Linked DNA regions of Homo sapiens: region 2 is linked to region 1. The links come from fine-mapping of genetic effects on gene expression. A gene starts in region 1. The other region holds a variant in brackets. All regions are shown on one strand. Distances are from middle to middle. Region 1 holds the start of RRN3 (RNA polymerase I transcription factor RRN3). Region 2 overlaps NTAN1 (N-terminal asparagine amidase).

Region 1 (5,371 bases):
AGCCCGAGGCTGCAACGAGCCATGATCGCGCCATTGCGCTCTAACTTGGGCTAGACAATGAGATCCTGTCTCAAACCAAAACAAAACAAAACAGATAATTGTCAGATTGCTGTTTTGCTATTGTTGCTTTTTGTTTTTGCTTTGCTTTCCCTTGGAAGTGAAGAAGAGATTCTCATTTAAACAGTTATCTTGAAGTATCTTTGTGAGCTACGGTGCAATTATTTCCTCTGTCCTTGAGACACAGATGATTCCTGTCCAACATTCCCAAGGAACTCAGTAAGGACCAAATAGAGACTCAGGAAAGACAGTTACTGATTTTACACTGTTGCAAAACAGAGCTATGGTTTATGTTTAACAAACTGCTGGCGGGGCGTGGTGGCTCATGCCTGTAATCCCAGCACTTTGGGATGCCAAGGCGGGCGGATCACTTGAGGTCAAGAGTTTGAGACCAGCCTGGCCAACATGGTGAAACCCTGTCTCTACTAAAAATACAAAAATTAGCTGGGCATGGTGGCGCATGCCTGTAATCCTAGCTACTGGGGAGGCTGAGGCACAAGAATCGCTTGAACCTGGGAAGCAGAGGATGCAGTGAGCCAAGATCATGACACTGTACTCCAGCCTGGGTGACAGAGCGAGACTCTGTCTCAAAAAAAAAACAAAAAACAAAAAAACCAAATTGCTGTATTTTATGTTGTGAAATAGGGTCTTGCTGTGTTGTCCAGGCTGGAGTGCAGGGGTACAATCACAGCTCACTGCAGCCTTGACCTCCAGGGCTCAAGTGATCCTCCGTCCTCAGTTTTCAAGTAGCTGGGACTACAGGTATGCACCACCATATGTTGCCCAGGCTGGTCTTGAACTCCTGGAGAGAGATACATATAAACACACACACACACACACACACACACACACACCTTTTTTTTTTTTGAGACACAGTTTCACTCGTCACCCAGGCTGGAGTGCAATGGCACGATCTTGGCTCACTGCAACCTCTGCCTCCTGGGTTCAAACTATTCTCCTGCCTCGGCCTCCCAAGTAGCTGGGATTACAGGCACTGCCACCATGCCTGGCTAATTTTGTATTTTTAGTAGAGACAGGGTTTTGTCATGTTGGCCAGGCTGGTCTCAAACTTCTGGCCTCAGGTGATCCACTTGCCTCGGCCTCCCAAAGTGTTGGGATAACAGGCGTGAGCCACTGCGCCGGGCCCATACATATGCATTTTTAAAAACTTATTTATTTATTTCGAGACAGGGTCTCACTCTGTTGCCCAAGCAGGAGTGCAGTGGTGCTATCTCCCAGGCTCAAGCAATCCTCAGCCTCCCGAGTAGCTGGGACTACAGGTGTGTGCCACCACACCCAGATAATTTTTATTATTTTTATTTTTTAAATTTTTTGTAGAGATGGAGTTTCACCGTGTCACCCAGGCTGGATATTTTTGTATTTTTGATAGGCCTGTACAGTTTCCAAAGTTGCAACCTTTTCCCCTCCCTGAGAGTAGGGGCAGCCCCTGCTCTCCCTCTACATCCTCCACAGTCCCGAGGTTTTGGCCTCTGTTTCCTCCGTTTCCTATGCTTGGAACGCCAGTGGCTCTTTTGTTGGTCTGGCTGACTCCTGTTCCTCTTTTAAAAATTTAAGTTTGGCCGGGCGTGGTGGCTCATGCTTGTAATCCCAGCACTTTGGGAGGCCGAGGCGGGCGGATGACCTGAGGTCATGAGTTCGAGACCAGCCTGGCCAACACAGTGCAACCCCGTCTCCACTAAAAATACGAAAATTAGCCGGGTGTGGTGGCATGCGCCTGTAATCCCAGCTACTTGGGAGGCTGAGGCACGAGAATTGCTGGAACTGGGGAGGCGGAGGTTGCAGTGAGCTGAGATCACACCACTGCACTCCACCTGGGCAAAAGGGCAAGACTCGGCCTCAAAAGAAAATAAATAAATAAATAAATAAAGTCAAGGGGGTAACACCTCTTCGTAACTCTCCTGTTGTTTCTCATGCCAGCATCACCATAGCCTTGAGGCTCTGAGGTAGGTCACTTCGTCGAGCTCGTTTCCGTGAGGATAACGTTATCTTGGGTGTCTGTGAGACTGCTGCACTGAGTATAGAGCCCAGGCTCCTGGGTCAGCCGGGTTCGAATCCCCTTTCCTCCGTGAAGATCTGGGTCAGTCACAAGTGCTTCAGTTTCTTCGATTTGACTGAGGGAGGCTTTGACTCCAAAAAATTAACACTTGAGTGTACCCGGCCACAGCTTAGCACATCCAGGGTGTTTCCACCCTTTCTTCGGGATCCTCAGGGCTGGATGGAGCCGGTCCTTCCCGTCTCTCCTTATACTCACGCACTAGCGCTGGCTGGAACAAGTCCTCCAAGTAGAACGAGGAGCGGGTTTCAGCGGCGCTCTAGCCCGCCGAGAGCATACGCCCTCCCCACGCGGGGCCGCTGATTGGCTGAAGGTTGCGCTGGCACGCGCAACTTCCGGGACAGAGGCTGTGGCTGGAAGGAGCTGGGCATCCGGCCTGAGGCGCAGCGGTCGCGTTAGTTCGGCCCAATGGCGGCACCGCTGCTTCACACGCGTTTGCCGGGAGATGCGGCCGCTTCGTCCTCTGCAGTTAAGAAGCTGGGCGCGTCGAGGACTGGGTAAGATTCAGGCCGCTTCCTTCTGCGTATCTGGGACGAAAGCTCAGGACGGCGCTTAGAGGAGCGGATTGAAAGGATGTGGGACAAAGCTCATGGCGTGTGATAGGAGCACGGGGTGGAGGGTCATCTCACGTTCACAGAAATGAGCTCATTCCTCCTAACTGGGTAATAGACATGGGTGGGGCCTGGAAAAGTGACTATGTTCTCTGTTCTGGAGGCCCCCTTTCCCGACTGTGTCTCTTCGTGATTTCCCAGGCCTGGGTACTGCCTTCTGCGCCTTGACCCCTCTTCCTTCCCTCTTCTTCGTCCAAATTTGGAAGGGATTTCCCTGGGCTATGTGGGTTATCAGCCGAACGTCGTCACTCATGGCAAATTGAATATTACATCTTTTTTGTTTGGAATTTGTTTCGACACACGTATTTGTTTCGCAGTCTTTATTTTGCTCCACTTTTAAAATCCCTAACCCCCGTAGCACTCTTGGCGTTTAACTTTCAGAGTCATTAGGATGCTATGTTTTTTCATTAATTTACTACGTGTAAGTGAAGCAAACCTTGTAAAACAATTAGCGTAATATGATTCATAATAATTATCGAGCTCCTGCTTACTGTGTTAAACACTGGGGACAGTGGTTTATCCAAAGACACTAATGTCCCTGCTTTCTACAGAGCTTACAGCATAGGGGGGAAAGGCAGTACATAGGCCAATAAATAAACGAACACGATGATTTCAGTTATACAACAAGGTAATGGGGGAGGGAGAAGGGAGAGAAGGAGCTTTTGAGATTTCTCATTGGGAAGACATCTGTCATTTGAGCTTCCACTTGAATGAAGACAAAAATCTAGGCCGGGCGCGGTTGCTCACGCCTGTAATCCCAGCACTTTGGGAGGCCGAGGCGGGCGGATCATCTGAAGTCAGGAGTTGGAGACCAGCCTGGCCAACGTGCGAAACCTCGTCTCTACTGAAAATACAAAAATCAGCCGGGCATGGTGGCAGGTGCCTGTAATCCCAGCTACTCAGGAGGCTGAGGCAGGATAATTGCTTGAACCCGGGAGATGGAGGTTGCAGTTAAGCCAAGATCACACCACTGCACTCCAGCCTGGGCAGCAGAGCAAGACTCCATCTCAAAAAAAAAAATCCAGCCACGTAGAGATTTGGGAAAAGAGTATTTCCAATAGAGTGAACAGTAAGTGAAATGAAAAACAGCTTGGCTTGTTTGAAGAGCAGAAAAGACGTTATGGCTGTAGTAAAACAAGTTGTTGGAGATGAGGTGAGAGAGGTAGGCAGGGGCCAGATTAATGTAGGATCTTAAAGACCACACTGAGAGATTTGGATTTTTACTGTAAGTGCAGTGGGAAGACAGTTATTGGTTGCTGAGCAAAGGAAGGATTGTTGGTTAAGAGTGGAAGCAGGGAGACCAGTAAAGAGGCCTTAACAATAGTTCCACTGAATTATGTTGGTTCAATAAATGTTGGCTATTATAATTTTTATTATTTTCATGAACTTAATAGCTTGTTAATCTTGGTTCCACAGGATTTCAAATATGCGTGCATTAGAGAATGACTTTTTCAATTCTCCCCCAAGAAAAACTGTTCGGTTTGGTGGAACTGTGACAGAAGTCTTGCTGAAGTACAAAAAGGTAAGGGGAGATAATGTGTGAGGTTTGCTTTTGGTTAGGTCAGAATACAACTATTGCTGTTATACTAAAGACCAATAGAAATAGCAAGATTAATTAAGATACCAGTTGAAATCAAATATTTAATAATAGCATGATGCCGTCAGTGCAAAATTAGAGTAATAGTGTCCTTTTTTTCCCCCACCTTGGCCCATTTCACAGGTAATAATGAGAGAGTAATAATGTCTTTACTGAGGTTTCACCTCTTCAAATGCTTTATTTACGAAGCATCTTTTAACTTTAGCAAGTGCCAGAATTAAAAACAATTACACCATTTTATTTATTTATTTATTTGTGCTGGAGTCTTCCTCTGTCACCCAGGCTGGAGTGCAGTGGCGTGACCTCGGCTCACTGCATCCTCCACCTCCCAGGTTCAAGCAATTCTCCTGCCTCAGTCTTCCGAATAGGTGGGGTTACAGGCACACACCACCACACCTGGCTAATTTTTTTATTTTTTTAGTAGAGGCAGGGTTTCACCATGTTGGCCAGGCTGGTCTCGAACTCCTGACCTTGTGATCCACCCGCCTTGGCCTCCCAAAGTGCTGGGATTACAGACGTGAGCCACCATGCCTGGCCTACAGCATTTTATTTTTTGAGGAACTTACCTAAGCATTACTTTGGGACAGTAAACCAGTTCTCTGAGTAGGGATTTTTGTTTTTGTGGTAGTTTAGAAGCATTTCTACTGTATCTCAGCAGTAGAGGGAAAATGTTAAGTAACCATATGTTTATATGTAATATCCATTTGTATCCATATTTGAGTGAATACTTTTTTAGATCCTCCTGAATTAGATCATTATAGCTGGCTGTTTTTTTCCCTCATGCTTTTTGAGAATTCGCAGGAGTATCAACTATTATATTCAAATGTCAATACAGAAGTATAGCTAAATGTAGTTTATCATTTTCCTTTTTCCAAGCCCTCTGGCTGCACTAACATGAGTGTTTAAATTTTTGTAGTCATGATTTTATAATCCGCAATTGACATGTGAAAGTTAGTGTTCCTTTTATAATTTCATCTGATGTTAAAGTACGGTTAAAAGTCTTGCTGTTGATACTAAACAGGAAACAAAAGC
Region 2 (5,371 bases), 48 kb after region 1:
GGGAGGCCTCATCTCTACAAAAAGTATAAAAATCAGCCAGGTGTGGTGGTGTGTGCCTGTACTCCCAGCACTTTAGGAGGCCAGGGTGGGTGGATTGCTTGAGCCCAGGAGTTTGAGACCAGCCTGGGGAGCATAGGGAGACCCCGTCGCTACAAAAAGTATAAAACTCAGCCAGGTGTGGTGGTGCAAGCCTGTAGTCCCAGCTATTTGGGAGGCTAAGGTGGTAGGATCGCTTGAGCCTGGGAGGTGGAGGCTGCAGTGAGTTGAAATTGTACCACTATACTCCAGCTTGGGTGACAGAGTGAGAGACTGTCTCAAAAAATAAAAAAGAGGGGATGTGATTTCAGAGCCATCCATCCACTATTCCTGTGTAATCTGATTCTCTTTACAATGGTAAAATTGTTAAGAGTCTCACACTCTTTAGTAAAGAACTGTGATAGCTGGGTGTGGTGGGTCATGCCTGTAATCCCAGCACTTTGGGAGGCCAAGGCAGGAAGATTGCTTGAGCCCAGGAGTTCAAGACCAGCCTGGGCAACATAGTGAGGCCCTGTGTCTTTAAAAAACAAACAAACAAACAAAAAACTATAATAAAGGATTTTTGCATCTCATTTCATAGGTTACTATGACATCCGATTTCATAGGTTAAAAAAACCACCGCGCAGAACCGCATCGTTTTCTCTGCATTGTTCTGAATGACCGTGGCTGCTGCCTTTTTCTTTGAGCCTCTCTGTCCACTAACACACTCCCCACACACTAGCGTGCTGCCCACGCAGAGCCCACTTTGGCTCTCTCCACATCTTTAGTTTTTCCATCCTCACTAATTTACATCACTATTTTATTTTTTTTTTAATTAAACAGGAAAGAGCCAGACTTCTCAGAGGTCAGTCTGTTCAACAAGTGGGACCCCAGGGCCTTCTGTATGTTCAGCAAAGAGAGCTTGCAGTGACCTCCCCAAAGGATGGTAGGTTAGGAAGCAGTGAATTGGGCGTTATCCCAAAAGGCTATTGGATATTTTATTTTATTTCTTTTTTAAACAGGCTCCATCTCCATTCTGGGTTCTGATGATGCCACTACTTGTCACATTGTGGTCCTGAGGCACACAGGTATGATGAGAGAGGTGAAGGAAACCATTACTTAAACTGACCCAACCTTTGGGACCATTGAATTTCTCGTGTTGAGTTTCCTGGTGTCTTGTTGGAAGCGGACTCCGCTTACCTTTTTTCTGGTCTGCATGGTGTCTCCCTGGTGTCCTGGTCAGAATGGGTTGGCTGGGGAGCACAGACCTGTCCGTTTTTCCCCTACAGGATATTCAAAGATGAGGCGGTCCGGAGGGACAGGCGGAGTCTCGGCCTGCGCACTGCACTCGCATCAGGGAATAACTTGAGTCCTTTCACCCTTGTTCTTCAGGTAATGGGGCCACCTGCTTGACACATTGTGACGGAACCGACACCAAAGCTGAGGTCCCCTTGATCATGAACTCCATAAAATCCTTTTCTGACCACGCTCAATGTGGAAGGTGAGATCTACGCTGCTCTCATAGGTGAATTGAGATCTTGGAACCGTCGCATACAGGACGTGGCTGTGGAAGCTGTTAGGGGAACACAGGATGCCACCACTGCCGTGTCTGCCTCGTTCCCCTGGAACAGAACCTGGCACGACGTGGGCACTGCGTCAGCAGTGGTTGAGTGAATGAGTGGGTGCTGGGCACAGGCAAGGAGTCTGTGCTGGATTTGAGATGGAAGGCTTGACTTTGAACTTGATGTCGTCTCAGGAACGTCGAGGTTGCGATTTTCACATCGTTTTGCTCTCCCCCGGGTGTGGTAGCTCTCCATGCAGTCATTCCTCCCGCAGTTGCTTGTTAAATGCTTCCTCTCACCTACACCTTGTAGTTTCTAGGGACACAGCAGTGAAGAGTAGACAGAAAGCCCGGCCCAAGGTGTTTGTATTCCGAAGCCGAGAGACTGTACACAAGATGGGGTGTTGGGTGGTGAGGCGGGGCTGTGGAGAAAACGAGGCCAGGAAGATGTGGGGACCGCTAGGGGGCGAGGCATGTAGTTTTTTTTCTTGTTCTCTTTTTGTTGTTGAGATAGGGTCTTGCTGTGTCGCCCTGTCTGGAGCACAGTTGTGTGATCTCAGCTTACTGCAGCCTTGACTTTGTGGACTCAGGTGATTCTCCGACCTCAGCCTCCCAAGTAGCTGGGACCACAGGTGTACACCACCATACCCAGCTAGCTTTTTTTTTTTTTTTTTTTTTTTTTTTGGTAGAGACAGGGTTTTGCCAAGTTGCCCAGGCCGGTCTTAAACTCTTGGGCTCAAGTGATCCTCCCAGCTGAGGGGTATAGTTTTAAATTCCAGCAGATTGGTAGTTTCCCCAAGGATTGCTGGATAAGAAGCGGCCTCTAGCCTGGGTGCCCCCACAGCACCTCATCCTCTCTCACTGCAGTAAAGTAGCCGCTGCCTCCATTTGACAGAGACGGGCAACTGAGGCTCGATGTGCTGGAGCACACAGGAGCTAGGTGGAGGCCGACGACACAGGCCTGCTGTCAAGACCACTGTTCACACACCTGTCCCCTCTCCTTGCTCTTTGTGGAGACCTGGCAGGTGTTGCTCTCATTTTACTGGAAGTCTAAGGCAGCCATTGAGTGAACTACTCCCATCATATACGAAGGCTTAATCCTAGGAGTCTAAAAAGGAAAGAGAGAGTTCTCTGGGAGAGATTTGCTAGTCAATACTGGTCGATTCTAAATTCTCCCTCTGTGGTCTGTGCCAAGGCTGGGCTGGCTTCATGGACACGTGACCCATGCAGGCCCAAAATGGTATTTTCATTTTCCTATCATCTTGGCCCCCGCAGGGGGACGTAATCAATGCCATTATGTTGCCACACACTCTGCTCCGTGGTTCTCAGAACGTGCTTGTCAGCTCTTCCTGATCTGTTGTAGAACTGTGATCGCTCAGGGAGTCAGAGGCAAACCTGGTGGCCCAGTGGCAA[A/GCAAA]GCCATGGTGGTCGCAGCTCTCCTTACTGCTACTACTTGGAGTTTATTATGAGGCCCCTTGAGGCTGTGCCCTATGTTGGGTACATCCAAGCTTCTGGTTCATCCCTTAGGAAGATTTTGTGTCTGAGAAGGCAGCGTAAAGTCTGGCAACACTTTGCCGAGCGTGAATTCGCCCACTTGACGGGCTGTGGAAAAGGGGGTTAGTAGATGAGTGTGGGAAACACTGGGTTCAAGAAAGTTAGTTGGATTTTTCAGTCGCAGGACTTCTCAAGAGCTTCACTGTGCAATGCGCAGTGTGACTCCTAAGGAGGGCTTCCAGCAGGCAGTTGCCCAGTCTTTTTGTTTTGTTTTGTTTTTGTTTTAGAGCCGGGGTTTCACCCTGTCACCCAGGCTAGTCTCAAACTTCTGGGCTGAAGCATTCCTTCCACCTCTGCCTCCCGCGTAGCTGGGAATAGAGGTATATGCCAGCACACCTGGCCTCAAACCTTTTTTTTTTTTTTTTGAGACAGAGTCTGGCTCTGTCACCCAGGCTGGCATGCAGTGATGCAATCTTGGCTCACTGCAACCTCTGCCTCCTGGGTCCAAGTGATTCTCCTGCCTCAGCCTCCCGAGTAGCCGGGATTACAGACGCCCACCACCACGCCCAACTTACTTATTTATTTTTTCCCCCTGAGACGGAGTCTTGCTCGATTGCCCAGAGCTGGAGTGCAGTGGCGCGATCTCAGCTCACTGCAACCTCTGCCTCCCAGGTTCAAGCAATTCTCCTGCCTCAGCTTCCCGAGTAGCTGGGATTACAGGTGTGCCACCATGCCCGGCTAATTTCTTTTCTTTTTTTTTTTTTTTTTGAGATAGAGTCTTACTCTGTAGCCCAAGCTGGAGTGCAGTGGCACGATCTTGACTCACTGCAACCTCTGCCTCCCAGGGTCAAGCAGTTCTCCTGCCTTAGCCTCCCAAGTAGCTGGGACTACAGGCACATGCCATAATGTCCAGCTAATTTTTTTTTGTATTTTAGTAGAGATGGAGTTTTACCTTGTTGCCCAGGCTGGTTGCAAACTCCTGAGCTCAAGCAATCTGCCCGCCTCAGCCTCCCAAAGTGCTGGGATTACAGGCGTGAGCCACTGCGCCCGGCCTAATTTTTGTATTTTTAGTAGAGATGGGGTTTTACCATGTTGGCCAGGCTGGTCTCAAGACTCCTAACCTCAAGTGATCCGCCCACCTCAGCCTCCCAAAGTGCTAGGATTACAGATGTGAGCCACTGCACCTGTCCTGTGCCTGTGCTCTTCCAGAGCAAAGTTCCCCACTGGTGCATGGAGGCGGCATCACATTTGTGTTCAGATACGGATCCCCTCAGTCATCAGGGCCCCTGGGCAGGGTCCCCAGAAGCTCGCCACTGGCCTTGGCAGTGTGCTGCCGATACTTTCTTTTGCGGTGGCACGAAGATGACCTGCAGCTCTGCTGTAGAGCAAGTGTTCATGGAAACTGAGAATGAAAGTTCAAAGTGAGACCAGCGCACGCACCGGTGTCTTCTTCTGGCCTCTGACCCGTCTCATCTCTTTGCCAGGCTGGAAGTACACCTTGTTGGAGGCTTCAGTGACGACAGGCAGTTGTCACAAAAACTCACTCATCAACTTCTTAGTAAGTTCATTTTTTTTTTCTTTCCCCCAAATTGGACATAAATATGTACCCATATTTGCTTGGGTTAAAAATCCCAATTGGTACAAAACCCAAGAAGGGCACACCCACTTGGAGCAGCACAGAGAAACAGACTGCCCAGCTTGGAATTTCACAGAAAGACTGAATGCGTGGAGCTCATGTGTAGGGAGGGGTAGCAGGGCTGGGGACAAGATTTTCTACTAAAACAGCAGTGAACACATTCCAAAATAGTAAGTGCTCTGAATTGTGTGAAAGCAGAGCCACCCTCCCTCCTGGCAAAAATGTCCATTTTAATCTGCAGAAAATTAAAACACTGATGATACCATTTTTTCCCTATTAGCAAATTTTTTCTTTTTTTTTCTTTTTTTGAGATGTAGTCTTGCTCTGTTGCCCAAGTTGGAGTGCAGTAGCATGATCTCGGCTCACTGCAAGCTCTGCCTCCTGGGTTCAAGCAATTCTCTTGCCTCACCCTCCTGAGTAGCTGGGATCACAGGCGTGCGCCACCACACCCACCTAATTTTTGTATTTTTGGTAGAAATGGGGTTTCACCATGTTGGCCAGGCTGGTTGTGAACTCCCGACCTGGTGATGCACCTGCCTCGGCCTCTTAAAGTGCTGGGATTACAGGTGTGAGTCACCACACCTGGCCTAAATTAGCAAATATTTTCAAAAAAGAAAGAAAGAAAACATTGTCGTGTGTTGACTAACCACCAGGCCATGAAGCAAGCTT

What was found. PIP is the estimated chance that this variant, and not a neighbour inherited with it, causes the effect.
Region 2: its variant is the best candidate, but not a certain one, in a credible set for the expression of RRN3 in whole blood (TOPMed, PIP 0.87).

What each region holds. Positions count from the first base shown.
Region 1 is chr16:15,091,402-15,096,772 of GRCh38, reverse strand. It overlaps RRN3 (RNA polymerase I transcription factor RRN3), which reads left to right and starts at 2,501. Exons shown (of 18, transcript NM_018427.5): 1 at 2,501-2,628; 2 at 4,159-4,264. The coding sequence starts at 2,540. LOC100505915 (a long non-coding RNA gene) reads right to left here and starts at 2,362. Exons shown (of 4, transcript NR_125434.1): 1 at 1,962-2,362. It also overlaps a transcript of PDXDC1 not described here. RefSeq lists an enhancer at 2,227-2,521.
Region 2 is chr16:15,043,587-15,048,957 of GRCh38, reverse strand. NTAN1 (N-terminal asparagine amidase) reads left to right here. Exons shown (of 10, transcript NM_173474.4): 2 at 859-961; 3 at 1,038-1,103; 4 at 1,408-1,516; 5 at 4,551-4,624. It also overlaps a transcript of PDXDC1 not described here. Among named protein-coding and RNA genes, the nearest start is that of NTAN1, 9.8 kb to the left of the region's middle. The variant A/GCAAA (reference allele first, on the strand shown) is at 2,990.